4 linked regions of the Homo sapiens genome follow. The protein of the gene in region 4 purifies or fractionates together with the protein of the main gene of each other region. This does not show direct contact. Each region holds a gene or a part of one and is shown on either strand. Other genes may lie near its edges.

Region 1 (8,484 bases), on a different chromosome or scaffold from region 4:
GAAATCCTAGGGGTTGGGTCTTTGTGGGAGAAATCTCAGTTCTCCTCTGCTTCTGGTATGCCAGGGAGACAGCAGAAGATGACCTCTCCCTCTCCTCTCTCCTCATTCCCCTCTCCTCAAAAGGCAATGAGATGCTGGATGGAGGAAGCCTCTGTTCTACGTGAATATATCCTATTGTAAAACCTCTTTTTTGTCTAGAACTTTGGGATAGGGTGCTAGCATGGCCCAGGGCTATCCAGAAACTCTGAGACACAGTCAGTGTGTCAGTGGACCAAGTGAAACGCTTCGAAGACTTGAAAGTGTCCCTAACATAGTTTGCTAACCCACTCAGAAGACATGACTTCGATTCTCAAAGATTCCCCCGAGAGAAGTCAGCACCATGTCCTCAGTAGGCTGCTAAAATAGATCTCCTTTTCATCTAAATTAGTTATTTCTTCTGTAAGCATAATCTTTCTTCTTCTCTCTTGGGTCTCTGGGTAAGTGAAGAGCAATTTATTCTCTTCAGTTGATAAACTTCAAAGGAGAAGCCTCAGCCTCAGCACTTGTGCTTTTGTCTGCTTTGTCTCCCCTTTGTAAGCTTTCATTTGGGGGTAAAAAAAAAAAAGAAAAGTTCTGCTGATGAACAAAAAGTTTGAAAACCACCAAAATCTCCCAGATTAGACAGCCAAGGCCCAGAGGAGGAAGTATCTTGCCATGGCTCTAAGTGGCAGGTAGGCACTGAAAACCCGAGGCCCCTGACGGCAGGCCTGAGCTTGTCCACGGCCTGGCTCTCCCTGCCAATTGTGCCGCACCTTTGTCTCCAGCCACCGGAGGTGAACAGGGCTCCCCAGGCTGACATACAAGGGTTCTTTTTCTGCATTATCATAACCGCACCTGGGGCTGAGCCTCAGCTCTAGCCCTCAGAGGTGGCACAAGTGATAATTCCAAAAGAGAAAGGCCCCTCCCTGAAAACTGCTCATTTTCGCTCTATCTCACCAGAAAGTCTGCATCGACCATCCTGGGAGGCAAAACCCAGGTGGTGGGAGGCTGCTTATAAATACCAGCATTGTTGGAAGACGTCCCAGTAGCATCCTATGGAGGTGAGCACCAGGGTCCCTATTTACTGATGAGGGGCCCAGGGTTCCAGCTGGGCCATGCCTACATTTTCCAGAGGCAAGACCATGTTCCTTAATTCCTCCCTGGTGGGTGGTCTTCCGGGTGGGGGTGGGCCATCTCTGGACAGATATTTCAGAAATGCCAGAAAAGAGCCTCTGCCTGTCCCTACAAATCTTTCAACCAGCTCCCTGCCTTCCATCCTACAATCAGAGCTCAAGGTTAAAATGCAAACACACTCAGGGAAAGGGGGAAGGCGCAACAGTCACACGAAGGTGCAGAAGGCTTGTAGCAGTCCCTTCAAAAGATCAGGTTTTCTGGGGGTAAGAAGTTAGGGTTCAGGAAAGGATTGTATGGAGAGGAAGGGAGGGTCAGGCTACCTCAGGTCTTTGCTTTGGAACCTTCCATAACACTTTCTTTTCTTTTTTCTTTTGAGATAGGGTCTTGCTCTGTCGCCCAGGCTGGAGCGCAGTGGCACGATCTCAGCTCACTGCTACCTCCGCCTCCCGGGTCCAAGCAATTCTCATGCCTCAACCATCTGAGTAGCTGGGATTATAGGTATGTGCTACCATGCCTGGATAATTTTTGTATTAAATATTTTTAGTAGAGACAGCGTTTCACTATGTCGGCCAGCCTGGTCTCGAACTCCTGGCCTCGTATGATCCACCCACCTCGGCCTCCCAAAGTTCTGGGATTACAGACATGAGCCACTGTGCCCGGCCTCAAAACACTTTCTATCACTATGTATTCAAATGTATCATCAGGAGTTTTCAGTGAGCCTTCTTGTGACCGTCTGGAAATATAAAGAGACTCTGGCAAAAGGCTAGAACCCCCTCGCCCTCTGATTTAGCCTCCTTGGCTATACCATTGCCTCAGCCTACCTCAGAAGCACGCCGAACCCCCAGGTCACACTGCTGGACCAAATCCGCCCTTCACTGCTGAGACATCAGCCCAAAAAGCAAGCAAAGAGCCACACAGAGGAGACTTGGCTTTGACCTCAGGCCAGGCTGGGAAGCTACTTTACCTGAAGCCACATGACCAGGGGCAGTTCTGAGAAGTTCTTGCAGGAGTTGGTGGCATAATAGAGCCACCAGAACATGTAGGCATCCTTGCGGACCGTCACATAATCCCATACTTCCTTGCCCTCCTCTGTGGGCCAGTCAATGACAGCTCCTGAAACAGAAGTTCAATTTCACTCTCCAGAAGAGTGCCTAATGTACAGGTAAATTCCAAGCCTGGTAGAGACAGCCATGCTAGGCTAGAGATGATTTGTTTTATAGTTTGGTAATTTAGCCACCCCAGTACATTGCAGGAATAAGGAAAAAACCTCGGCTATGAAAAAAGAAACCAAACTTAACAGCGGCATAGGAGGCCAGGGGCTTTCACTTTTTCCTCTACACTTTTCTGTAATGTTTGGATTTTTAACAATAAATATGAAACACTTTTTTTTTTTTTTTTTTTTTTTTGATACGAAGTCTCGCTCTTGTTGCCCAGGCTGGAATGCAATGGCGCAATCTCGGCTCACCGCAACCTCTGCCTTCCGGGTTCAAGCGATTCTCCTGCCTCAGCCTTCCAAGTAGCTAGGATTACAGGCATGCACCACCACGCCTGGCTAATTTTGTATTTTTAGTAGAGATGGGGTTTCTCCATGTTGGTCAGGCTGGTCTCGCACTCCTGACCTCAGGTGATCTGCCCGCCTAGGCCTACCAAAGTGCTGGGATTACAGGAAATACTTTTATAATTCTGTAAAAACAAGAGAGATTTATATTTTGAGTAAAAAAGTAAAAATCTCAGAATGCAATATACTGGTTTTTATATCGTATTTAATACATGAGTAAGACACCAGGCTTGGTGGCTCACTCCTGTAATCCCAACACTTTGGAAGGCCAAGACAGGCTGATAGCTTGTGCATAGGAGTTCAAAACCAGTCTAAGCAACATAGCAACACCCCATCTCTACAAAAAATGCAAAAATTAGCTGGGCATTGTGGCATATGCCTGTGGTCCCAGCTACTCAGGAGACAGAGGTAGGAGAATCGCTTGAGCCCAGTAGGTTGAGGCTGCAGTGAGCTGTGATCACACCAGTGCACTCCAGCCTAGGTGACAGAGGGAGATCCTATCTCAAAAAAACAAAAAACCAACCAACCAAACAAACAAAAAACATGAGTGAAGAGGCATCACAAATTAGTGGGGCTGAGAATATTCAATATACAGTAATGGAGCAACAATTACCTTTTTTGGAGAAAAAAAGAGAAATTTAGGTCCTCTCAACACTATAAACGAAATAAGTTCCATGAGGATCAAGCAATTAAATTTTAAACTTTAAACATTAAAAAAATACAAAAATATAGTTAAATATATTTCTAATGTCTGGATGAGGAAAGAATCTAAGCAAACCCCAGAGACTGTACAAAAGAAACAATGATGGAGGTGAGAACAGAAACTTGTTATATTTCTATACAACAAAATTTCTGTAAATCAAAAATAAAAAGGCAAACAGCAAGGAAAGAGCTACAACAAATATGAAAAAGGGCAATTTTCCTAACTCATGTAGATGATTTTTTTAAACTGAACGATATATATCTGTGTATGTGTGTTTAATATACGTATCCTATAATCCCCTAACTCCAATTTTCCTTACTTAACTTTTCTAGCATCCACAAAATATGTTTTAGAAAAGAGTAGGCTAAATACATTTTCTTTGTCACTTTTTGCTAACGTAACAATTTCCAAGTTATAGCATCTTTTTTTTTTTCCTCCAAAACCACTCTGGGAAAAAAAAAAGTAGAGGGGCTGTTGTTAAAAGATGATGGGGGGGATCCCCTCGGTGACTGGAGTTTTCTGCCTTCTATTTCCTCCCTTCTCAAATTTCAAGCCCCATTGGTCAGTAAAAGAACACTGGTCCCAACAGCTAAAGAGACAGGAGTAGAGAGGAAGACAATGAGACAACGTCTTGTAAATAAGAAAGAGCCAGGGTGGTGGCCTGTGTCTGCAGTCCGGGCTACTTGGGATGCTGAAGTAGGAAGATCACTTGAGTCAGGCAGTTCCAGACCAGCCTGGGCAACATAGTGAGACCCTGACTCAAAACAAAACAACAATGAAGATTAAGAAAACCAGAAAGTGTCCTGAGGAGCAAAACAGATGACTAAAACATTACAGACTTAGCTATAAGGTTCTATATACAAGTAACACACGATTATATTGTCCTTGACAATAACAGATAAGGCTGCGCTCCCTTGAGAATGACAGATAAGGCGCAGGTACCTTTTGACCTAACCCCAGGCACTTCTCCCTTGCCTGGCAGTGACTACTGGTAAAATTGGCAGAGCTACTTATTTTACAAAATCTCCCAGACACTCGCCTAAGGGCCAGATGATCCCCATTTTAGAAAAGGAAAACAAAACTGTTCAACAACTTGCCTAAGGTCACAAGGCAAGCTTGTGGCCAGTTCCAATTCTCAGTGCTTGCTTCAGACTAGGAGAGGTTTTGCTGAAAATCAATTTGCAAGTCATCCTATTAAACACAAATCTGTTTTTTGCCAAAAAAGATCGCTGTGGGGGAAGATGTTATCTTGTTTGTTTTGATCAAGAAAAGAAAGGGCCTTATCTCAATGAAATGTCCCATTCGTGGTAGGATGTAAGGGTACTTTTGACCGCAGATTTCAGCTTAAAATAAAACGACCTTATATCCTCATTTAGCAGCCAATCATGGCCTTTGAATCGGGGAAACCTCATTGACCAGCAGTTTCCCCAAATCATACATTTCTGCACACAGCTTCTATCTAGGCGTAGGAGAGAACGGAAGCACTCAGACCACCCAGAGCCAGAAAAGGACAAAAAAAGCACTTTGAATTTTTTAAGGAAAAAAAAAAAAAAGAGTGAGATTCAAAAGCAATATAATTACACAAGGTAAGAACCGGGGAAAAGAGACATGTTTTCAAAAGCACAAACCCAGTAACAAACTCTCACGCCTGGAGAAAAAAGAGGCATGGCAGCTGGTGCGCCTCTTGCTTGAACCTACCTGCGTTCAGGCCCAGCAGCAGCGGCAGCAGCAGCAACCACCGCGGGACGGGAGAGCGCCGCAGTGCCAGCTCCATGACAAGTACCGCACGGCAGCATCAGCAACAGGCTGGACCCGGCGCCCCATCACGTGACGGAGGCGGACGGGGCGGGTCGGGGGCGGGGCCTGCGGGTCGGGGGCGGGGCCTGAATGGGCATGGGGCGGGGCCTGGGCGGACCCGGCAGCTTGCTGAGACCCGCACGCCCTCTGCCCGGCAAGCCCACCAGGACCCCTGCAAATGCGCAGGGGCCGTTCTGTCCGCCTGGCCAGGTTCTCTGTCATTTTAGGGAGAGTATTTCGGAAAGGAGACATTTGATGCAGATGTTGGATTTAGGTTGTGTGACCGGATCGAAATACTAAAGGGAATAACCACCGCCCTTTCTACCCCTCCCATCTCTTCCTTCCCTCAGCAAAAGAACCGACGTTTTCCAACACTGCTACATCTGCGAAGTCAGATTAAGCCAGCTGGTCGTTGGCAAACAGCGGGGTTTCATTTTCAGATATGTATTTTTTAAATTATTTTTCTTTTAAAGTTATGTATGTTATAAACGTTTTGGAAATATGAACAAAAAAGTTATACATAACTATTGTTGGCATTTTTTCCCATAGTCTTTTACGTCATTTTAAAAAACACTAATAAAGATTTTTATTTTTTTTTTCTTTTTTGATAATTTGTCATTAGTATTACTCTGTGTTACGTTATCTTCACAGCAGTCATTTTAAAGAGAGAATCGAGGGTCTGGGGACGGGAAAGGAAGAAAAAGTGGATGACAGAGCTGTTTTCCTCTGTGTGTGTGTGTGTGTGTGTGTGTGTGTCTGTCTGTCTGTCTGAAGGTCATTTTTACGTTAGAGGGTACTGAATAACTCACCTCACAGCTAGGAGACAAGCTACAGCAGGGGCTGTAGGAGAGGCTACTTCTAAATACTGCTTCAAAAGTACATGTAACAAAAAGCAAAAAACAAATCAAAGTACATGTGGCCACTTCTCCTCTTTCCCTGCTCCTTTCTCCCTCCCCTCGCCCTTGACCCCCATAAATGGAAGTGCTTTTTACTCTGCAGCCATTGTCTGGACAGAGCCTTGACCCCGCCCTGCCTGTGAGGTGCCCCTGCACTGAAAGCTGCGGCAGAGAAAAATATGCCGCCGGGTTCTGTCATGCTTTAAGCATGGGATGGTCCCGAATGCATAAAATCCATAATGCCTGGGCAACATATTGAGACCCCCTCTCTACAAAAAATAACAAAAATTAACTGATGTGGTGACACGCGCCTGCTGTCCAAGCTACTCAGAAGGCTGAGGTGGGAGGATCACTTGAGCCCAGGAGCTCCAGGCTGCAGTGAGCAGGTGTTCCATGCCATATGGGAGATACATAAAAGTACATGCTTAGTTAAAAATAAATAACTATCTAGCAAACTTTTCCTGTCTGAAGCTTCCAAGTTGGTCTGTATCACTAGGGCTTGAAATACACTTACCCTTCCACTGCAGTCAGAATTTTAGGGTTTCAATTTTTTTGCCACAAAAATAACACTACAGCCCAGGGCGCAAGGTGGCTCACACCTGTAATCCCAGCACTTTGGGAGGCCGAGGTGGGCAGATTACTTGAGGTCGGGGGTTTGAGACCAGCCTGGCCAACATAGTGAAACCCCATTTCTACAAAAATACAAAAATTAGCTGGGTGTGGTGGCACTTGCTTGTGGTCTTAACTACTCGGGAGGCTAAGGCATGAGAATCGCTTGAACCCAGGAGGTGGAGGTTGCAGTGAGCCAAGATGGTGCCACTGCACTCCAGCCTGGGTGACAGAGTAAGACCCCATCTCACACACGCACAAAAAAATTGTGCATTTTATAATACGCTAATATGACTTCAAAAGGAAAAAATATAAATAAAATGTCACCTCTAGTTAATGATATTCATATTAAAGTGTTTAGGGGAAGGTGTACCAATGTATACAATTTTCTTTGAAATGTATCCAGATGCTGGCACAGTGACCTATGCCTGTAATCCAGCTCTTTGGGAGACCAAGGTGGGATGATTGATTGAGCCTAGAAGTTTGAGACCAGCCTGGACAATATAGTGAGACCATGTCTCTTAAAAAAAAAAAAAGTATCCAGAATATAAGATGGATTGATGGATAGGATGGAAAGAAGGTTGGATACATGGATAAATACATGATATCAAGTATTACAGTAACATTTTCTTTTTTCATTACAGTTTATAATCACAGGAACAAAATAAACAAAAACCACATGTAGAAACCAGATTAAAGCTTGTTATCCTTACAGGCAGTGGCGAAATTCCAATCTTCAGGGTTGGAGTGGTCTTTGTTTAAGAAAAATACCTCCTTGGTTCATTGAAGTTAGGAGTTGGGAGCTGATGGCATAGTAGCTGCAGCCAAGGCAACAAAAGATAATTGCCAAACTGTGCGGCCCAGGAGAAATTTTGTTTTGCTCCTAGGAGAGGAAAGAAGAGAGAAAGATGAAAAGAAGTGAAGGCTACATATAGAGAAAGATTAGCCAAAGAGAGTTGAGGCTGGAAGAAGAGCCAGTAGAAATTTCTCCGATGAGGAGTGGCTATGTAATCCCCCAATGGGTTCTTTTTGCCTGCTGCCCAGATAGAGCCAGCCAATTTATGAAGGCAGGGGAATTGCAATGGGGAAACAGTTTAATTCATGCAGAGCTGGCTGAAAGGAAGACTGGAGTTTTATAATTACTCAAATCAGTCTCTGAGGAGTAGTTTCAAAGACAGTTTAGGGGTAGGAGCAGAGGTGGCTAGGCAATGGATGCTTGCTGCTGATTGGTTGGGTTGGAGATGAAATCACAGGGAGTTGAAGCTGTCTTCTTGCGCGGATTTGCTTCCAGGTGGGGCCGCAGGAGCAGTTGGTAGGTCCAGGTGGAGCCAGGTGTCAGACATGCAAAAAAACCTGAAAAGATATCTCAAAAGGCTAATCTTAGGTTCTACAATAGTGATGGTGTCTGCAGGAGTAATTGGAGAAGTTGCATATTTTGTGACCTCAGGAATAATGGCTGGCAATCCTTAGCAGAATTCAGCCTCCTCTATTTTCTTAGCCTGGTGGTCATTTAGCGTAAAGTTTGGGGAAGGGCCATTATCATTTAACCTATAACCTAAATGCCTCCCAAAGTTAGCTTGGCCCAGAAGTCCAGGAATAATTAAAGGTAGCTTGAAGGCTAAAGGCAAAGGCAAGATGCCGGTTGGTGAAATCAGATCTCTCCCACTGACAAAATGTTCTCACTGACACAGTTTATGCAAAGGCTGTCAGCTACAGAACATTTTTTAAAAGTTATGCTTGTGGTTCAATTTGAAGTGGATTGCATTTCT
Region 2 (7,597 bases), on a different chromosome or scaffold from region 4:
AGTGAGCAGGAGATTGCGCCACTGCACTCCAGCCTGGGCGACAGAGCGAGACTCCGTCTCAAAAAAAAGAAGAAAAATTTAAGAAATATAAAAAGTGGAAGATAAAGCATCTTTCTGATGTTTGCATTTTTCCTCATAAAGTAGATGGTGACGTTTTCTTCTGCTGCCTCTCTTAGATATACCCTCAATGTCCTGGAAGATCTTGGAGATGGTCAGAAAGCCAATGACGACATCATTGTGAACTGGGTGAACAGAACGTTGAGTGAAGCTGGAAAATCAACTTCCATTCAGAGTTTTAAGGTCAGAATCCATATTTGACTATTAAATATTATGTTTGCTGGATAACATCTATCATTTGGGAAGGCAACTTTTGGCTTCTTTGTGAGTGAGAATTAGTGTTGGGCTAATGGCACAATTCTTTACGAATTCACTGGGCTTTGTTTTTGGCACTTGATATAAGTAAGCACATGTTAATTTGTATGTATCAAAATTCTCAGATTTGTTCTCCTTTCACACTAGGACAAGACGATCAGCTCCAGTTTGGCAGTTGTGGATTTAATTGATGCCATCCAGCCAGGCTGTATAAACTATGACCTTGTGAAGAGTGGCAATCTAACAGAAGATGACAAGCACAATAATGCCAAGTAAGGGAGACTGCTAATAGTATGAAAAGAACGCAGCTTTGTAGCTGGACAGATCTGAATTCTAATTCAGGTTCTGCCATTTAAGAGTGGTGTCACCTTGGGAGAAACCTCTTGGAGCCTCAGATTCCTCATCAATAAACTGGGGGCAATAATACTTACCTTAGATTTTATAAAGATTAAATTTTTAAAAATTATAAGAGCCTAGCCTTGTGCTTGGCCTACTAGGTGCTTAGTCGGTTGTTGCTTCAGTGGATTACAGAAATAATGTAGCATGTATTTTAATGCAAATCAGGTAAAACTTTACAAGGAAAATAAGAGCTTAGGGTGTTCATCTGTCTGTCTCATTCTTTTTTTAAAAAACGCATTATCCACTTATGTCTCTTTTACTATACATAGATCATTCTTACTACATTTATTGAATTTATCTTCATCAGTTCCCATATTAACAGAATGCTTGCTAGCCCTCCACAGAAGACTATGCCTTGAAAGTTTCTTGCATTTCAACAATATTCAGAAGGTCTTTTCCACCAGCCTATTTTCTTCTTCACCAAAGGCCTAGAGTGTGACCTGGCTTCATGGGTGACCCATGAAAACCTTACTAGTTAGACATTGAAAATCCATCCACAGTCCTGCATTACCGAACAGCTAAGAAGCATTCCTGCAAAACTTTGGAGTTAGGCACATTATTTCTTTTTTCCTTGAAAAATATTTCTAGCAGATATGACAAAGGTCTAATATCCACAATATATCAAGAACTCTTGAAATCTCTTTTTCTAGAAACTCGATGATTTAATTATCTTTAAAGATTCTGGTTCCAACACACCTAGAAATACTTCACGGATTAGTTGAGATGTGTTCCTGAAAATTTCCCTACCTGGACATCTCAGTTCTTCTGTCCCTTCGTCTACCTTTTCTAGTTTTTGGTCCAGCCACTCTGTCCACGTACCACGTAGACTGTCTCCCCTCTCATGAATACTTGGAAGTATTCATTGCATCTGCCTAACAACTTGGGTTTTGCATCTAGCATGATTTTCCACCTCATATCTCTAAGATGACTTGAGTGTGTGTTATTATGTGTGCAATGAGAATATTAACATGGATTGTATAGACAGCCTAGGTAATTATATATATAAAGTTGGTGCTTCAAGCTTAATTCTCACCTCACATTGGAGAAAAAGAGTGAATAAATATTATTAGCCCCAAATAATAGAGCTTAAAAACCTACTGTAACTTCAAAGTGAAATCAAAACCCAAATCAAAAGAAAACAAAAAGCAAAACTGTTCTAATTGGAACTATCAATATGGAATTTTTGCATCCCAGCATAATAATTATATATGAGGAAATAGATGTCTTACGTGGTGTCCTTAACTGACAAGAATTTCATCCTGATTTTGTTTCCCCCTAAAATAGGTATGCAGTGTCAATGGCTAGAAGAATCGGAGCCAGAGTGTATGCTCTCCCTGAAGACCTTGTGGAAGTAAAGCCCAAGATGGTCATGACTGTGTTTGCATGTTTGATGGGCAGGGGAATGAAGAGAGTGTAAAATAACCAATCTGAATAAAACAGCCATGCTCCCAGGTGCATGATTCGCAGGTCAGCTATTTCCAGGTGAAGTGCTTATGGCTTAAGGAACTCTTGGCCATTCAAAGGACTTTTCATTTTGATTAACAGGACTAGCTTATCATGAGAGCCCTCAGGGGAAAGGGTTTAAGAAAAACAACTCCTCTTTCCCATAGTCAGAGTTGAATTTGTCAGGCACGCCTGAAATGTGCTCATAGCCAAAACATTTTACTCTCTCCTCCTAGAATGCTGCCCTTGACATTTCCCATTGCTGTATGTTATTTCTTGCTCTGTTATCTTTTGCCCTCTTAGAATGTCCCTCTCTTGGGACTTGCTTAGATGATGGGATATGAATATTATTAGACAGTAATTTTGCTTTCCATCCAGTATGCTAGTTCTTATTCGAGAACTATGGTCAGAGCGTATTTGGATATGAGTATCCTTTGCTTATCTTTGTAGTACTGAAAATTTGCCGAAGTAACTGGCTGTGCAGAATGTAATAGAAGCTTTTCTTATTCTTTTATTCTTAAGATCAGTATCTTTTTACAGTATTCTTTCTACATGATCCTTTTTTGTACATTTAAGAATATTTTGATTATATTAAACAAGACTGCTGATTTTGCTACTTTTTTTAAGGGGTCTTCAAGTAAGTAAAACATACATCGTAGCTAGAAGAAAAATGTACCTTAAATTTGCATCTTCCCTCTCATACCCAAGCTGTAAACAATTGAAATATTTTGTCTTAAATCACTTGGTTCAATACATGCTTATTTGTTTTAAAACCTGTATCATCAAACTCTCTCTCTAAATTTAAAATGCTGTTGAATATGATACTTTTGAGGAGAGAGTGTGCTCAGAACTTAGACGGGATTTGGTAGGCCAAGTATGCTAAGTGTACAATATATTTTTTAATTTTACACCTGAAACAAAGAAATGTGGTCACTAAAAATAAAAGTATATATGTAGGAATTAATGTACTCTTGCTTTGTCAAGCTGTTTGCTATAGTTTCCAAGGTATTATGTTACTCTAACTCTGAAAAGTGATGTAATCTGGTAGCAATGTAGTAGTTCAAATAAAGGCATTTACATAATAATTAGTCTGTTCTTCATGCTTTTGTCTCTTAGGAAGTATGCCAATGTTTGTCAGGATTTTTTTCTTTTTGTTTTTCTGATGTATTCTGTAAAATGGTGTTTGTTAAATTTGAGTTTTGGGAGCTGAATTAGAGGTACTGAATTAAGGACAGTACAAATGAAGTAAAAAGGTTTTCTCCAATTTACCAAAATTTCTTTATCCAGTTCCTGCTTTTTTCTTTCTTTTCCACCTCCCTCAGTCTTTTCAATGTTCTATGATATACATATCCTGAAACAGTGGGGATCTGAACAGTCACAGAGGAGAAATGGTTCATAGTAGATCTTCTCAATCTCATCCATATATGACATTTTTGGCTGGATAACTCTGTTGGGGTGGGGAGAAGGGGCTACCCTGTGCATTGTAGGAGGTTTAGCAGTATTACCGGCCTCTACCCACTAGATGTCAGCACATGCCCGGTGGTGTTGACCAAAATTGTCTCCAGACATAACCAAATGTCTCCTGGGTGGCAAAATCATCCCTTGTGGACAATCAGTGCCCATTTAAGCCTTTGTGTGAATGAGTAATATAAGGTGTAGTCTACTGAGGATTTGGTTACATAGAGATACTATATAATACTTTGCATTTATAATCTGAGAGATGGAAAGGCCTTTTTAAATATCACCTGAATTCCAAAGACATAAAATTAAAAAAGGATATATTTGACAACTCTACTTTTGCAAATATATATGTATAATAAAAAAGATCAAAATATAGATAACTAAAAAAGTGAGTTCAGTCTCAGATTATAGATTCTTTTAATATAAAAATAGGATTTATGAGTGAAAAAAAGACAAATCTGCAAACATACTAGGGTAACTGATGAAGTAAGGACAATTACATCTTAAGACCTGTCTTATGCCTTGAATCTGCCATACTCATTCACGTTCATCTTCGTCGAAGTACAAAGGTTCTTCTCTGTAAGCCCTAACGCCTTGAAGTGCCTCTTTAACAAGATAGGAAAGATATATTACATGTGGCCCTTTCTTCAAAAAAGGAGCTGATTTCTTGGGTGGTTCACTATACAGGGCCCACAGCCTGTAGGAGTGTACCATGGGATAGTTAAGTGTTCATATAAAGCAGTGGACCTGACACACAATTTTTTTCCTCCAAAAACTAATTTCAACAAATAAGAATGTGGACCAAAATTAGCAACACATTCAGAATTCTGCTGGGCGTGGTAGCTCATAACTGTAATCCCAGCAATTTGGAAGGCTGAGGCAGGTGGACTGCCTGAGCTCAGGAGCTCAAGATCAGCCTGGGCAACACGGTGAATCCCCATCTCTACCAACATGGTGAATCCCCCATCTTTTCCCCACACACCTGTAACTTCAGCACTTTGGGAGGCTGAAGTAGGAGGATTTCTTGAGGCCAGGAGTTTGAGACCAGCCTGGACAACACGGGGAGACTCCGTCTGTATAATAAAGTTAGCTAAGCATGAGGCTGGGTGCGGTGGCTCAAGCTTGTAATCCCAACACTTTGGGAGACCAAGGTGGGTGGATCACCTGAGGTGAGGAGTTTGAGACCAGCCTGGGCAACATAGTGAAACCCCATCTCTACAAAAATACAAAAATTAGCCAGGCATGGTGGTGGACACCATAATGTGTCCCACCAGCTACTCGGGAGGCTTAGGCAGGAGAATCACTTGAACACTGCGGGCAGAAGTTGATGTGAGCCGAGATTGCGCCACTGCATTCCAGCCTGGGTGAAAGAGCTAAACTCCATCTCGAAAAAAAAAAAAATTAGCTGAGCATGGTGGTGCATACCTGTGGTCTCAGCTACTTGGGAAGCTTAGGCAGGAGAATCACTTAGTTCAGTTGATCAAGGCTGCAGTGAGTTGTGATAGAACCATTGCATCCTAAACTGGGCTGCAAGACTCCATCTCTTAAAGAAAATAAAGATGATATTCCCCCTCTATCCTAATATGCTGAGAGATTGATTTTTTAAATTTTTGTCATGAATGGGTGGGTAGATTTTATCAAATGCTTTTTCTGCATCAATTTATATCATCATAAAATTTTCTTCTTTACCCTATTGATACGGTGGATTACATTGATTAGTTTCCAAAGATTAAACAAACCTTGCATGCCTGAATAAATCCCACTTGGTCAGTGTATAATTCTTATTCATTGTTGAATTTTATTTGCTAATATTTTATTGAGGATTTTTGCATCTAAGCTCAGAATGACGTTAATTTTTATTTAAATGTTTGGTGCAAGTCTCCAGTAAAAGTGTCCAAACCTGGAGATATTTCTTTAATGGTTATGGGGCTATTCAGATTATCTATTTAATCTTGATTGCGTTTTGGGTGGCTTTTGAATTTTGAGGAATTTGTTCACTTCTTCCATGTTGCTGAATTTGTGACCATAAAGTTTTCGTAGTATTTCCTTAATTATCTTTTTAATAGCTGCAGGATATGTAATGATATCTTCAGTTTGATTCCTCACAGTGGTGATTTATGTCTTCTCTCTTTTTAACCTTTGTCAGTCTTGCTAGAAGTTTATCAATTTCATTACTTTTTTTAAGAACTAGCTTTTTGTTTCTTTGTTTTTGTTTTTCTATTTTATTGATGTATGGTTTTATCTTTATGATTTCCATCTTTCTGCTTTCTTTGAATGTGTTCTGCTCTTTTTTTGTTGTTGTTGTTGTAGCATCTGTCCAAGACAACCGTAAAAAGCCACTAACCTCAATAAACTACCCATACAGAATTATCTATTTCTCCTTTCAGCCATATCAGTTTTATTTTGTTTTTTGTTGTTGTTGTTGAGACAGAGTCTCACTGTGTTGCCCAGGCTGGAGTGCAATGGCGTTGGCTTGCGGCAACCGCCTTTTCCGGGTTCAAGCAATTCTCCTGCCTCAGCCTTCTCAGTAGCTGTGATTACAGGTGCCCACCACCACTCCCTGCTAATTTTTTTTTTTTCTATTTTTAGTAGATACAGAATTTCACCATGTTGGCCAGGCTGGTCTCGAACTCCTGACCTCAGGTGATCCACCAGCCTTGGACTCCCAAAGTGCTGGGATTATAGGCATGAGCCACCATGTCCGGCCACACCCTGCTCAGTTTTTATGTATTTTGAGACTGTGTTGTTTGGTGCTTACACATTTAGGGTCACCATTTCTTTTTAGCTAATTGATCTTTTTCTGATTACATAATGTCACTCCTAGTCCCCAGTAATTTTCTTTGCTCTGTATTCTACTTTATGTGATATTAATATAGCCTAGCCATTCCTGCTTTTTAATGTTTACATAATTGTCATTTTCTATTCTTTTATTTTCGAGCTGCATTCATTATGCTTGAAGTGAGTTTCATGTAGATTGCATATCGTTGGGTCATGTGTTTTTATCTGTGTTTTAATTTTTTGCTTGTTTGTTTGTTTTGAGATGGAGTTTTACTCTTGTCGCCCAGACTGGAGTGCAGTGGCGCGAGCTCAGCTCACTGCAACCTCCGCCTCCTGGGTTCAAGTGATTCTCCCACCTCAGCCTCCTGAGTAGCTGAGATTACAGGCATGTGCCACCATGCCCGGCTAATTTTGTATTTTTAGTGGAGATGGGGTTTTACCATGTTGGCCAGGCTGGTCTCGAACTCCTGACCTCAGGTGGTCCACCCGCCTCAGCCTCCCAAAGTGCTGGGATTTCACAGGCATGAGCCACTGCACCCGGCCATTCCTTTTTTTTTTTTTTTTTTTTTTTTTTGAGATGGAGTCTCCTCTGTTGCCCAGTCTGGAGTGAAGTGGTGTAATCTCGGCTGACTGCAACCTCCGCCTCCCAGCTTCAAGCGATTTTCCTGCCTCAGCCCACCACGCTCAGGTAATTTTTGTATTTTTAGTAGAGATGGGGTTTCACCATGTTGGGCAGGCTGGTCTCGAACTCCTGACCCCAGCCTCCCAAAGTGCTGAGATTACAGGTGTGAGCCACCATGCCCGGCTGTTAGCCACTGCACCCGGCCTTAATTATTAATAGTTAGACATTATTTACTTTGAAAGTAATTATTGATATGTTAAGGCATAAGTGTGCCATTTTATTATTTAGTTTATGTTTGCTTGCTCCACTTTTTGTCCTTCTGTTCCCTGCCTCTTATCTTTTGATGAGTCACTTGAACGTTTTTTAAAATTCCATTTTGATATGTCAATAGTGTTCTTGAATATAGTTCTCTTTTTATTTTTATTTTTTGAGACAGTCTTGCTCTGTCATCCAGGCTGGAGAGCAGTGGCACTATCACGGCACCACTGCAGTCTCAACCTCCTCCCGAGCTCAAGTGATCCT
Region 3 (7,909 bases), on a different chromosome or scaffold from region 4:
TTACAGTAATCTAGCCTAGAAGGGCTGAAAACACATATTAGTGTGTCAAGATTTCTGCCAGAAAAAGAAGCACTAGTTTTTGTGTGCATGCGCTTGTGGGGTTTTTTTGTTTTTGTTTTTGTTTTTTTAGTATTAGCAATAAACTGTGTCTCTCAAGAACACTAACGTGAAGACTTCCACACTGCAAACACAGAAATAAACTCAAAGTTAGGAACCCAAAGTTCTCATTCTAACCTTCAGGCTTTGTTTGATGTGTTATAGGTAACTCTGATATTATATTGTGTCAAGGTTTCATATTCTTTAAAAACAAACTTTTATTATGTTTTTTGTTTTATATTAGAAAAAGTAATAAATGCTCATTGTAGTAAATTTAGGAAGTATAAATAAATACAATTGAGAAACTAAAAGTCACCTATAATGCCCAGTCAGACATACCACTGTTCACATTTAGGAATGTATCAAGTTTTTTTCTATGCATATATATGATGGGTATATTTAAAATAAAAAATAAAAATGGCTCATAGAGGATATACTAGCTTGTATCATCTATATCTAGATATAGATTTTTTTTAGAGACGGGGTTTCACTCTGTCGGCCAGGCTGGAGTACAGTGGCACCATCCATAGCTCACTGCAGCCTCAAATTCCTGGGTTCAAGCAATCTTCCCACCTCAGGCTCCTGAGTAGTTAGGACTGCAGGCATGTGCCACCACACCCAGCTAATTTTTTTTTTTTTTTTTTTTTGGTAGAGATGGGGTCTCACTACATTGCCCAGGCTGGCCTTGAACTCCTGGGCTCAAGCAGTCCTCCCGCCTCAGTCTCCCAAAATTGGGATTATGGGTGTGAGCCACTGAACCTGTCTCCTCTTGTTCACTTAATAATAGATCATGAACATCTTTCTATGTTATTATATATGTAAATACTTATGTAATATACATCTCTAAATGTTTTTGCCCATTCATCATTATTATTTCCTCAGAATAAATTCCTAGATTTGTTGGGTCTCATGACTTATAGCTGTTTAAGCCCATTGATACATATGGTCAAATTCCAAGATTCACTGTTACTTGTATTCCAAGATTTACTGTTATTTATTTTCTGCTTTATTCCAGAAAGGATTCAGTATTACTGAGTTTGACATTTAATATCATTGTTGAGTGTGGAATTTTTAAATACACTAAAGTAGTTTTGCCAGTGAGTCACAATGAAACTTTTTTCAATAAGCTTAAGCCATTTCCCTTTAGAATTCTCGAACTTCTAATGTATTCAGTCATTGGCGTGTTAGAGAAGTGAGAGTCAGCAGGATCCCCAGTTATCCTCCAGAGACTGTGTATCCGCAGTGGAAATTGGGTGGCAATATTCCTGTCCTATTGCACTGTGCCTTCTCCTTCTGTGCCAGGCAGCAGTGTTGACAGGCTACCACATGAAACAAATGTTTGTGGAGGCATCCCCAAAGCTATCTAACTCCAGTTATTCTGGATGAAATGTCTCTTCTGTGGTAGCAAGCTGTTGACTGGGTTTTTCAAATCCTGGTTTCCCTATGTAATTTTTGCAAGAAGACTTTAAAAAAAATTCTTGTTCATGCAATACATTCTCTGGGAACCCCAAAGGGCTTGTTAATTTGTTTCTTTCCACACTGACCCCCACCTGGCAATTCTGCCTGTCCCTGATTTGCTCACCTTCCTCAAAGTTTCACCTCAAGTAACTGTCTTAAAAATGAAGACTTCCAGCCCGGTGCAGTGGCTCACACCTGTAATCCCAGCACTTTGGGAGGCTGAGGCGGGCGGATCACCTGAGGTCGGGAGTTCAAGACCAGCCTGACCAACATGGAGAAACCCCATCTCTACTAAAAATACAAAATTAGCCAGGCATGGTGGCGCATGCCTGTAATCCCAGCTACTCGGGAGGCTGAGGCAGGATAATCGCTTGAATCCGGGAGGTGGAGGTTGCGGTGAGCCGAGAGCACAACTCTGCAAAAAAAAAAAAAAAAAAAAGACTTCCGGCTGGGCACAGTGGCGCATGCCTGTAATCCCAGTGCTTTGGAAGGCCAAGGTGGGCGGATCATGAGGTCAGGAGTTTGAGACCAGCCTGACCAATATGGTGAAACCCTGTCTCTACTAAAAATACAAAAAATTAGCCGGGTGTGGTGGCAGGCGCCTGTAATTCCAGCTACTCGGGAGGCTGAGGCAGGAGAATCACTCGAACTTGGGAGGCGGAGGTTGCAGTGAGCCAAGACCATGCCACTGCACTCCAGTCTGGGCAACAGAGCGAGACTCTGTCTCAAAAAAAAAATGAAGACTTCCTTTTCAAGTTCAAGTTCATCATAGTTCCCTATGAAAGCACTTTTTTTTTTTTTGAGATGGAATCTCACTCTGTCGCCCAGGCCAGAGTGCAGTGGCATGATCTCAGCTCACTGCAACCTCTGCCTCCAGGGTTCAAGTGATTCTCTTGCCTCGGCATCCTGAGTAGCTGGGACTCCAGGCATGCGCCAACACGCCTGGCTAATTTTTGTATTTTTAGTAGAGACGGTGTTTCACCATATTGACCAGGCTGATCTCGAACTCCTGACCTCCTGATCCATCCGCCTCGGCCTCCCAGAGTGCTGGGATTACAGGCGTGAGCTACGCACCCAGCCTGAAAGCACAATTTTAACTGACCACTTGTTTGTTTCCATCAGTGTCTGCAACTGAGGGCTCCACCTCCCTACTGGGCTGATATATTCGAGTTACAAACCCAGCCTCCCCCATAGCATCCTCAGTTCTGCTCTTTTTCCTGATTAATCCCTGTAGGAAATTTATTTTGAGCTGCTCTTGAAGAATCTAATCCTCTAGATTTGTAGCTTTTGCCTCTTTAAATTTAGCTTGTGTTCTTTCCTGTTGAGTCTTCAGATTCAGCTTTTTTTTTGTTGTTAGTTACATGAAATGTCCTGTTAAATTTTACCATCCTGAAGATTCATGGGCATGTGATGTGTGTTGGTTAATTAGAGCTATTCTCATTTGGAGTTATCCTCAGTAATTATATATGTATATATGTTCATTGTAGAAAAACATTGTGTTAGCCTGACATTATTAACACTGACTCCACAACCTGGATGAAACAAGCATGTATAAATATGTTTCTGTATTCTCTGTCACAACAAATCATTTTCAGCATTACCAGTATCACATATGGCAGAGTACTTTAGAATTAATAAAAAACATAGCTATTAAATGTAACTTTGTCAGAATTATGATCCCAAAGTTTAATAAAACTTGATGTTTTTGTCCCTGTTTCAGGGTTTCAACATCAAAAGTGTACAATCACAAGGTTTTAAACTGAATGTATGGGACATTGGTGGACAGAGGAAAATCAGACCATACTGGAAGAATTATTTTGAAAATACCGATATTCTTGTAAGTACTCCTTCTGACGCACTAATTCATAGTATTTTCTGCCATGTGTTAGAAACATGGACACTGTAACATTCTTTCTTGTCAGTAATTCCACCACCATAACATTAATCACTGTGAATTTAGCAGGGATAGCAGAAGGCTACAGATTATAAAGGAAAAACATCTTTGTATAACTTGTATAAGATGTTTTGCTGTCGCTCAGTAACAATGTTGTACCCACACCCATCTTGGCAAAATAAAGTGTTATTAATTGCCATAGTGATTTGAATAGCAGAAGGGAAGTCAGAAGATCATGCCACTGACTGTCACCCCTAGGAAGACAACGAATCAAGTGTATTGCAAAGAGAGCAAGCAAAATAGTGAAAGTACTGGAAACCATGATGTGTAAGGAGTGGTTGAAAGACCTGAGAATGTTATTCCTGGAAAAGAGAACACTGGGAACTGTCTAGGCTGCTTCAAGAATTATCTTAAGTCAGAGGGATTGAATAGTTCTAGAGGGCTGAGCCAAGAGCAAGATGGGGAATGTTAGGTGGTAGAATGTAATTCAGATTAAGGAAGAAGTTTCCTATAATTACAATCGTCCAGTAGTAGGAGAAGCTGCCTCGTGCATTGGGAATACCCTGACTCAGGGAGCGTTCATTCAAGTGGAGGCCGAGATTTTAGCTCCCAGCTCGCTGTCACTTCCTTTAGGACCATCACAGTTTCAGAATTCTTGGAGATTTCACTGTCCACTTACATGATTTCCACAAAACCTCAGCCTCTCAGTTCCTTCACCAGCCCTCCTTCAATGGTCTTGTCATCTACTCTACCTCAGCCACATACTTGCATAATCATACCCTAAAACTAGGGGGGCTCATGAACTTAGATGGGAGAAAAATTGCATGTCGCTTTTACTAACCTCTAACCAAAAGTTTGCGTTTACATCAATTATGATGAAAGGCAATAAACTGCAATAATAGCAGCCATATCTATGTCTTTATTACGAATAGAAATCATCTAGACCAGGTGTGGTGGCTCATGCCTGTAATCTCAGCAGTTTGGGGTGGCTGAGGTGGGAGGATCGCTTGAGCCCAGGAGGCGGAGGTTGCAGTGAGCCCAGATTGAGATCAGGCCACCACACTCCAGCCTGGAAGACAGAGTGATACTCTGTCTCAAGACAAGAAAAAAAAAAAGAAATCATCTTGCATCTCAAACAGCTTCACCTTCTGCTGTTGTTTCCTAAGTGTCTCTCTCCTCTGGATCATTCCCATCAACATAAACATATCCTGTAGCTTCTCTTGCTTAATGAAGAAAAAATAAGCCCCAGAAAACTCCTCCTGACCATACATCCCCCTCCAATACTGTCCCATTCCTCAGCCTCCCTTTATAGCAAAACTCCTTGAAAGAGTTTGTTATGCTCTCTGTCTTTGCTTTATCTCCTCCTAGTTACTCTTGAGCCTTCTTTTCAGGGTCACTGATAATTCCACATTGCTAAAAGTAGGGTTCAGTTTTCAGTACTCATCTCACTTGACCTATCAGGCCATTTAACATTGGTCATGCTCTCTTTGAAACATTGTCTTTTCTTGGCTTCCAAGACACCATTCTATCTTGGTTTTCCTCCTCACTGGCTACTCCTCCTAAATCTCCATTGCTATTTTTTTTTAATCTCCCAACCTCCAAATGTTAGAGAGCCCCGGAGTCCTTGTGTTTTTCTTCTCTGAGTCACTGCTTAGGTGACCTCGTCTAATTTGAAGGATTTAATGACCACTTAGATGCTTATGAATCTCAAACTATCATCTCTAGCCTGGAATTCTCCCCTGAACTTGAGTTTCATATACAGTCATGTGCCACATAATGACACTTGGGTCAGTGACTGACCTCATAAATGATAGTGGTCCCTTAAGATTATAATAGAGCTGCCGGGCGCAGCGGCTCACGCCTGTAATCCCAGCACTTTGGGAGGCCAAGGCAGGTGGATCACGAGGTCAGGAATTCAAGACTAGCCTGGCCAAGATGGTGAAACTGCATCTCTACTAAAAATATGAAAATTAGCTGGGCATGGTGGTGGATGCCTGTAATCCCAGCTACTCAGGAGGCTGAGGAAGAGAATTGCTTGAACCCAGGAGGTGGAGATTGCGGTGAGCCAAGATTGCGCCACTGCACTCCAGCCTGGGCAACACAGCGAGACTCTCTTTCTCAAAAAAAAAAAAAAATTATAATAAAGCTGAAAAATTTATATTACCTAGTGACATAGCTGTCATAACACATTACCTTTTATATGTTTAGATCCATAAATACTTACCATTGTTTTACAGTTGCCTGCAGTATTCGATACAGTAACTTCGTGTACAGGTTTGTAGCCTGGGGCAATAGGCTATGCCATACAGCCTAGGTGTGCAGTAGACCATCTAGGTGTGTGTAAGTACACTGTATGATGTTGGCACCATGTCAGAATTGCCTAATAATGCATTTCTCAGAACATGCCCCTGTCATTAAGCAACACATGACTATATAAGCCAGCTGCCTATTTGACATCTCCACTTCAGCGGCTGGTAAGTCCCTCAGCCTCAACATGTCTAAAACCAAATTCCTGTTTTCATCCTGTTCTACTCAACCCTACTCTTCCCACAGTCTTCTCAGTAAATGGGAGTCCCATTCCTCCGGAAACAATGCAATCATCCTTGGCTCCCTCTCCTCACTCCCCTCATCTGATCTATCAGCAGATTCTTTGTACCTATTGCCATCAGACGTATTTTTATTTATTAGCTTTCTCTTGCACTGTAAGGTAAGCTCCGTGAGGACAGGAATTTTTGCATTTTAAAAAACTGTTGGCCGGGTGCGGTGGCTCACGCCTGTAATCCCAGCACTTTGGGAGGCTGAGGCGGGTGGATCACAAGGTCAGGAGTTCAAGACCAGCCTGGCCAAGATGGTGAAACCCCATCTCTACTAAAAATACAAAAAATTAGCCAGGCGTGGTGGTGGGCGCCTGTAATCCCAGCTATTTGGGAGGCTGAGGCAGAGAATTGCTTGAATCAGGGAGGTGCAGGTTGCAGTGAGCCAAGATTGCGCCACTGCTCTCCAGCTTTGGCGACAGACCAAGACTCCGTCTCAAAAAAAAAAAAAAAATGTTGGCCAGGCTCTGTGGCTAACGCTTGTAATCCCAGCACTTTGGGAGGCCGAGGTGGGTGGATCACGAGGTCAGGAGATCGAGACCATCCTGGCTAACACGGTGAAACCCCGTCTCTACTAAAAAATACAAAAAAATAGCCGGGCATGGTGGCGGGCGCCTGTAGTCCTAGCTGCTCGGGAGGCTGAGGCAGGAGAATGGCATGAACCTGGGAGGCGGAGCTTGCAGTGAGCCAAGATTGCACCACTGCACTCCAGCCTGGGTGACAGAGTGAGACTCTGTCTGAATAAAAAATAAAATAAGGCCGGGCATGGTGGTCACTCCAGCCTGGGCAACAAGAGTGAGACTCTCTCTAAGATAAGATGAGATAAGATAAGGTGAGGTAAGATAAAATTCTTTTAATTCAGAAAAAAACAAAAAAATAAAAATAATTAAAAATATTTTAAATCAGGCCTGGTGCGATGGCTCATTCCTGTAATCCCAGCACTTTGGGAGGCCGAGGCAAGTGGATCACTTAAGGTCAGGAGTTCGAGACCAGCTTGACCAACATGGAGAAACCCCGTCTCTACTAAAAATACAAAATTAGCTGGGCGTGGCGGCACATGCCCGTAAGCTACTCAGGTGGAAAATCGCTTAAACCCGGAAGGTGGAGGTTGCGGTGAGCCAAGATCATGGCATTGCATTCCAGCCAGGGCAACAAGAGTCTCAAAACAAAAAACAAGTCTCAAAAACAAAAAAAAAATTTTAAATCAACAAGGAAACACTTAGAACTAATAAGTGATCATACCAAGGCTGCAGGATATAAGGTTAATATGTACAAGTCGGTTGCTTTCCTTTATATCAGCAGTGAACAATTGAAATTTGAAATTAATAGCAAAATACCATTTAGCACCCCCAAAATGAAACACTTAGGCATAAATCTAACAAAATACATTCAGGACCTACTTGAAGAAACCTGCAAAACTCATAAAGAAGATCTAGGTAAATAAAGAGACAGTCCGTGCTCATGGATAGGAAAACTCAGTATTATTAAGATGTCAGTTATACCCAACTTGATTTATAGATTTAATAGAATCCCAATCAAAATCACAGCAAGTTACTTTGGGGATATTGACAAACTGATTCTAATGTTTATATGGAAAAGCAAAAGATTTAGATGGCTAACATAGTACTGAAAAGGAACAAGTTAGAGGACTGACACTACCTGACATCAAGATTCTCTGTAAAGCAAGTAAACAAGACAGCATAGGCCGGGCGCAGTGGCTCACGCCCGCACTCCCAACACTTTGGGAGGCTGAGGCAGGCAGATCACCTGAGGTCAGGAGTTCAAGAGCAGCCTGGCCAATGGGGTGAAACCCCATCTGTATTAAAAATACAAAAATTAGCCGGGTGTAGTGGCAGGCACCTGTAAT
Region 4 (6,845 bases):
ATTGAGTGTTCCCAGTTTGGAGTCATTTTGCTTTTCTTTTTGGTTGAATGATGGTGATTTTTTTTTTTTTTTTTTTTTTTAAAGAAACAGGGACTTGCTCTGTCCTCCAGGCTGGAATGTGGTGGCGCAATCATGGCTGACAGCAGCCTTGAACCCCTGGGCTCAACCAATCCTCCCACCTCAGCCTCCTGAGTAGCTGCAACTACAGGCCTGTGCCACCATGCCCAGCTACTTTTAATTTTTTTTTTTTTTGCAGAGATGGAGTCTCACCATCTTGCCCAGGCTGGTCTGGAACTCATGGCCTCAGGTGATCCTTGTTCCCTAGCCTCCCAAAGTGCTGGCATTACAGGCACGATCCACTGTGCCCGGTCCATCCTTAGTTTTCAACATAGATATCAAAAAAGCATTCAGCATGAACCAGTCGAAAGATGATCCTTACTCTGAGAAAGAAAGGCTCACGTTGGAAGCCTGTACTCCTTAGTTAGAACCAAGACTTGATTTTTCTGGTGACAGGAAATTCTTTTTATTGCAGATCTCTCAAAGGCCTTGGTTCTGACAGAAATTGGCCCCAAACGTGACCCTGCGACCCTGAAGCTGTTCCTGAGTAACATGGAGCGGCTGCTGCATGCCAAGGCGCATGGGTAGGAGGTTCAGTTCGGGGAACACCCTGCAGCCCGAGGAGGAAGAACGGAACACGGACTTGCTAAAACTCCCCTGGGATTTGAGGAGGAAGCCTGACGTGGAAAGAGTGGGAGGGGCACATGAACATCAGACTCAGGGAAGCCCTGTGAGGGGCCCGCCTGCAGTAGATACTCCTATAGCCAGGCCTCTGGAGATGCGTGGGCACCTGTGTTGCTTCTGATCAGAATCCATGGAACTGACCTCATGCTGCTCAACCAGCGAATGGTGCAAATACTTACAGTCCTTCCCGAGGGGGCCTGGCGTCAGACAGGTTTATCAAAGCCCAGTGAATCCTCTTTGTCTCTTGCCTTCCCAGTAGGGCTGTGCTGTGAGCCCTAGCCATGTGAGACCACTGACACTTAATGTCACGTTCAGTAGAGGAGGATTCAATTCTCTGGTTGCTGCATCTCAGGTGCTCAGTAGCTAGGTCAGCTGGGAGCTGTCATGGCACAAGGCATTTGCGTCTGGCGGAGGCCTGTTGGTTGGTGGCTCCAGGCCCTATATTCAGCCTCCAGAGCTTTGGCAGAAGTGCTGTGCTTCATTTTTCACTAGGGAAAATGCCCAGCCGGGGTACCTGGCTGAAGTCGGCTTGCACACCACAGAAAAGGCTCCACTCCCGCCTGCATCTGTCCTCCCTTCCCTCTCCCCAGGGTCCGAGTGATTGGAAGCTCCACATTGGCACTCTGCCACCTGGCCTCAGGGGCCGCGGATGCCTATTACCAGTTTGGCCTGCACTGCTGGGATCTGGCGGCTGCCACAGTCATCATCAGAGAAGCAGGCGGCATCGTGATAGACACTTCGGGTGAGCTCTCCTGTCCCTGAAATGCAGCGGCAGAAACTAGACTGAGAGACACTGTGGGTGGGGCACTTCCTGAAGTCCCCACCAACTGAATTTCCCACCTTCCCCAGAGTTTCTGTTTTTTTTTTTTTTTTTTTTTTTTTGAGACGGGGTCTTGGTGTCACACAGGATGGAGTGCAGTGGTACAATCTCGGCTCACTGCAACCATCCTACTCACGGGTTCAAGCAATTCTCCTGCCTCAGCCTCCTGAGTAGCTGTGATTACAGGTGCGTGCTACCATGCCTGGCTAATTTTTTGTATTTTTATTAGAGACGGGGTTTCATGGTGTCAGCCAGGATGCTCTTGATCTCCTGACCTCGTGATCCGCCTGCCTCGGTCTCCCAAAGTGCTGGAATTACAGGCATGAGCCACTATGCCCGACCCCATTCCACATTTTTTCTTTTTTTTTTGACACGGAGTTTCACTCGTCACCCAGGCTGGAGTGCAATGGCATGATCTCGGCTCACTGCAACCTCCGCCTTCCAGGTTCAAGCAATTCTCCTGCCTTGGCCTCCCGAATAGCTGGGACTAAAGGCACTCACCACCATGCCCAGCTAATTTTGTATTTTTAGTAGAGATGGGGTTTTGCCATGTTGGTCAGGCTGGTCTCGAACTCCTGACCTCAGGTGATCCACTCGCCTCGGCCTCCCAAAGTGCTGGGATTACAGGCCTGAGCCACCATGCCCGGCCTCCATTCCATATTTTAAAGCCCCCATCACTCTGATTTTACCACTAGAGCACCTGAAGGCTCACGTATGTGCAAGCAGGTCTCCAGCCCATGCATCCAGAGCTGTTTCATATCCCTCAGGAAGATGCAAGGCTTTATCATCTTGCCCGAGCTTCTTCGAGTGTGGGTCCCGCAGCAGCGGTGCACCCCCAGGAGCTTGTGGGCAGGTAGCCTCAGCCCCACCCAGACCTGTTGAGGCAGAGCCTTGGTTTCACAAGCCCCTGGCTGACCCCTGTGCACAGTCAAGCTTGAGAAGGGCAGCTCCCCTGTTCGGGTCTAGCCCATTGCTTGCATTTCTTAGGACTTTTATGTTCTCCATCTCTTAAGGCAGTGGCAGCTTCAGAGCCGCACTCTGTTCTGTGCAGCCCTTGACTGCATTCACACTGGGGTGGGGCGGGAGAGGCTCCATCCCTCTATTCTTTGCCGAATTCACTCCTAGACCACCTGTTTAATACGAGTGTTGGGGCTTGGGCACGGTTCCATGTGCCATTTCCTGTGCTGTGTGCATGTGGGATAAGTTGTTACACAACATTGTTCAGCCCTCTCTGGTAACCCGGATGCCTGGCTCTCTCTGTCTGTCCCCAGGTGGACCCCTCGACCTCATGGCTTGCAGAGTGGTTGCGGCCAGCACCCGGGAGATGGCGATGCTCATAGCTCAGGCCTTACAGACGATTAACTATGGGCGGGATGATGAGAAGTGACTGCGGCTGAGGCAAAGCTGCTCCCAAGGCCTCCCTGGGCTGCTGTGGGCTCCTGGGGAGGTGGCCCTCGTGGCCCACGCTCCATGCCAGTGGCTCACGCTCTGCTCCTGGCTACCCCAGAGGGAGTTGTCACGCTACAGTGAGTGGCTGGCCTTTTAAATCGACGTCTCTCTCACCAGGATTTGGTGTTTAGCTGTTTCTCTCTTTAATCTCACGTAGCCTTTTTCAGGTTAGTACGTGTTCTTCTGTCAGGGCCAAAACTCAAATCTCCTGTGAAATACGTATTGATAATCCAATCTTGATTTTTCCCCCCAGAATATAAATCTCAGGTAATAAGGCTTTAGAACTGCTGATAAAGCGGATCGTTCTCAGGCCCTCCCCCCGGAGTACTTCAGAATGCAATAAATCAAAATAATGGCCCTGTGTGTATCTGTTTCCTCTATAAGCATGTCGCCTGATTCCCAAACAACTCTGTGGCTCTCATCCACTGCTGTGGATCTATGCTCTCAGGAAGCTTTGCGAATGAAACCCAAAGTCCATGCGAATGAAACCCAAAGTCCATGCGAATGAAACCCAAAGTCCAGTGTGTGCCAGCTGCTGCCTCTGATGAATACCCTGAAGGCGACCCCAGTAATATCATGTGAGTGTTCAGAAGCCAAGACATGGGACAGACAGAAGGAAACTAATCTCTGAAAGCTGTTGTTTCTGTGATCAGCTTTTTTGTTTTTGTTTGAGTTGGGGTCTTGCTCTGTCTCCCAGCCTGGAGTGCAGTGGTGTGATCACAGCTCACTGTAGCCTTGACCTCAGGACTCAAGTGATCTTCCTGCCTTAGCCTTCTGAGTTGGGACCACAGGCATGCACTAGCATGCCAGGCTAATTTTTAAAAATTTTTTGGTAGAGATGGGGTCTCACTGTGTTGCCCAGGCTGGTCTCAAACTCCTGGACTCAAGTGATCCTCTCACCTCAGCCTTCCAAAGTGCTGGGATTGAATCACCACACCTGGCCAATCTGTGATCAGTTTAAAGAGGAGAAACTGGGCCTTACTTGTTTCTCTTTAGGAGGCGGAATGGTATGTAAGAATAATTCTAATGAGGCTATTAACTGGCTGGCCAGACATCTTTCCTGAAGTTTAAGAATGAGAAAGTCTTGGCTGGGTGCGGTGGCTCATGCCTGTAATTCCAGCACTTTGGGGAGCCGAGGCAGGTGGATCACTTGAGGCCAGGAGTTTGAGACCAGCCTGGACAACATAATGAAACCCTATCTCTACTAAAAATACAAAAATTAGCTGGGTATGGTGGCGCATGCCTGTAATTCCAGCTACTTGTGAGGCTGAGGCCCGAGAATCATTTGAACCCGGGAGGTGGAGGTTGCAGTGAGCTGAGATCGCACCCCTGCACTCCAGCCTGGGCGACAGGAGACTCTGTCTCAAAAAAAAAAAGAAGAAAGATTAACTGAATTTAAAAAATAACATATTCCCAGAGGTTCACTGTAGGGTGAGCACTGTGTCCTGCCACGTTTGGAATCGTTTTGTCTTTGAAGAAGTGGAGCCTCTCCCAGGGCTGGCTCGGTGCCCTTGTCTTTCCAGCAACAGCGTTAGTTATAGTCATCTTTGAGACTGGCTTTTCTTTCATCTCTGGAGAGAGCTTGATTCGTCATCTTATTGCTTTGTCTGAACTAATTTTGTTTAGTAGAGCTTTTCAATAAATAGTTTGGATTTTTTAAATGAGTTTAAAATATGCTCATGTTTCTCCAAATTGCTGATTATTCCTTTAGGCCTTCGTTAGCCCATCTTAATTTTCTCAGAATCTACTCAAAACAGATCTGAGTATTTATACAGATGTGCAAGAAATTTCTTACATTCTCATGGATTTTGAGATGTAGTGCTTATTAGTCAAATAATATCTGGAAGTTTTCTTCAACAAAATAACTCTCGCAGCACGTTGAGAGGCTGAGGCAGGATTGAGGCCAGGCATTCCAGATCAGCCTGGGCAGCATAGCAAGACCCCATCTCTACAAAAAAAAACCCAAAACTAGATGGATGTGGTGCACAGCTACTTGGAAGGTTGAAGTGGGAGGATCCTTTGAGCCCAGGAGTTTGAGGTTACAGTGAGCTATGATTGCACCACTGCATTTCCAGCCTAAGCCACAGAATGAGACCCTGTCTCTATAATAAAAGTTTTTAATTAGCCAGGTGTGGTGGTGCGTGCCTGTAGTCCTAGCTGCTTGGGAGGCTCAGGCAGGAGGATGGCTGGAACCCAGGAGGTCGAGGCTGCAGTGAGCCATTATTGTTCCACTGCACTCCAGCCTGGGTGACAGAGCGAGACCCTGTCTCAACAAACAAAACAAACAAAAAAACAAAAAGAAAGAACTGCTCCCCTCCCCAACCTCAGGAAAGGCCCTCCCAGCCCTTGGGTCAGGACAGCAGGAGGCCCTGAGGGAGCTTGAGCTGACTCCTGCTTCTGCTTCTGCTTCTGCTCTGTCCGGAGTCTCAGGCTGCCTTTAGCAAGTATTCCGCATGAGCGTCATCCCTGCGGCTTCAGGAGAAGCAGAGTGAACCTTGGAGAAAAGAGAGGCACCCAAGGTGGGGACCTGCGGGCTTGCCTCATTCATCCCTGGACAAGCCTCCCAGAAACGAAATGGGCTGCTCACCTCTGTGATCCTCAGAGTTAGCAAAACTGCTTGCTATGTCATTTAGACCTCTTACAAAATGATATTCATCTATCACTGGTGATGACATTCATTCTGAATTCCACTCATAGGCTTCAGGATACTTGCCCTCATTTTTTTTTCCCTTCATTTCAACAGTTTTCACTGAGTGTCTTGTGGACATGAGTCATCAAATGTTTTGCTGCCTTTATGATCCAATCCCAAATAAAAAGTAAAACATTTGTCCTAGTGCATCACTGTCACCACTCAGACCAGGAGTCAGGACGCGGATTGATGTTCAGGTAGCTGTGTGGCCTTGAGAGGGCCATGTCAGCTCTCTTTTGGTGCCAGGTGAAGTCTGTACTGGGGGTCTGGCTGCCTCCCTCACAGGGTTGGGAGCATGTCCCAGGACGACACCTAGGAGAGTACCATGAAACCAGAGAATGACGGAGGCAGTCTCAGTCAGCGTTGAGATTTATTTTGCCAAGATTGAGGATGTGCCTGGGAAAAGGACACAAGCCACTGTAGGATCTGTGGTCTGCACTTTTTTCCAAAAAGGATTTTGGGCGCTTCAGTATTTAAAGAGGAAAGAAAACAAAAGAGGGTATGGTCTCATCCTTGATTAGAGCTCGTTAATCCACATACTGCAGGCAAGGAGGGGGAAGCGGAACAGTGGGTTACATGGGGGAGACGGTATTTTTCCTCTCCTCTCATCCCTCACCGGGAAGATATGCTGTTAATTTACATCGTCTGGGTGAGAGAGGCCACCTGGGAAGACACTGCCTTCTATCTCTAGCCATTCTGTTGAGGAACAAAAGGAAGGTCGGTGTTCCTCCTGACTCAGCTTCCAAGCTTACCTTTTCCCTTGGGCATAGTGAGTTTGGGGGTCTCCAGATTTTACTTTCCATACACATCAACTGTGGTTGGTTTTTTGTTGTTTTTGTTTTTTACAGTTAAATATATTATTAAAGCATGAAAAGATCATGATGTCTCCAATAACCAAATGTTATTCAAGAAAACTAGAAATATTTAGATTATACCACAGCTTAGACAGGCTTTGCCTGATTTATTAAGCCATTTACAATCAGTTCTATCATCCATACCCAGGACTTCCGGGCTGGAAAAATACATCCTATAGCTTTCCCAGTAGGAACCACATTCATCATTGCTTTTTTCTGTGGAGGCAATGTATAAATAGAGCAGCTTTTTGAAAACATAAGCAGAGGCCCAAATCAGTGGCCTAAAACTTGG

What was found.
Region 1: the proteins of IMPA2 (region 4) and SCPEP1 fractionate together in Homo sapiens (co-fractionation; one large-scale study listed by BioGRID). This does not show direct contact.
Region 2: the proteins of IMPA2 (region 4) and PLS3 purify together in Homo sapiens (affinity purification with mass spectrometry; one large-scale study listed by BioGRID and IntAct). This does not show direct contact.
Region 3: the proteins of IMPA2 (region 4) and ARL3 fractionate together in Homo sapiens (co-fractionation; one large-scale study listed by BioGRID). This does not show direct contact.

The regions. Positions count from the first base shown.
Region 1 is NC_000017.11:56,974,863-56,983,346, reverse strand, and holds the start of SCPEP1 (retinoid-inducible serine carboxypeptidase precursor), read right to left. Parts: upstream 5,217-8,484; 5' UTR 5,188-5,216; coding exon 5,112-5,187; intron 2,266-5,111; coding exon 2,117-2,265; intron 1-2,116. UniProt on the Homo sapiens protein: May be involved in vascular wall and kidney homeostasis.
Region 2 is NC_000023.11:115,647,374-115,654,970, forward strand, and holds the end of PLS3 (plastin-3), read left to right. Parts: intron 1-176; coding exon 177-300; intron 301-519; coding exon 520-644; intron 645-2,055; coding exon 2,056-2,188; 3' UTR 2,189-3,488; downstream 3,489-7,597. UniProt on the Homo sapiens protein: Actin-bundling protein.
Region 3 is NC_000010.11:102,694,855-102,702,763, reverse strand, and holds part of ARL3 (ADP-ribosylation factor-like protein 3), read left to right. Parts: intron 1-3,274; coding exon 3,275-3,391; intron 3,392-7,909. UniProt on the Homo sapiens protein: Small GTP-binding protein which cycles between an inactive GDP-bound and an active GTP-bound form, and the rate of cycling is regulated by guanine nucleotide exchange factors (GEF) and GTPase-activating proteins (GAP).
Region 4 is NC_000018.10:12,027,511-12,034,355, forward strand, and holds the end of IMPA2 (inositol monophosphatase 2), read left to right. Parts: intron 1-532; coding exon 533-641; intron 642-1,331; coding exon 1,332-1,483; intron 1,484-2,832; coding exon 2,833-2,948; 3' UTR 2,949-3,367; downstream 3,368-6,845. UniProt on the Homo sapiens protein: Phosphatase that can use myo-inositol monophosphates, myo-inositol 1,4-diphosphate, scyllo-inositol-1,4-diphosphate, glucose-1-phosphate, beta-glycerophosphate and 2'-AMP as substrates in vitro.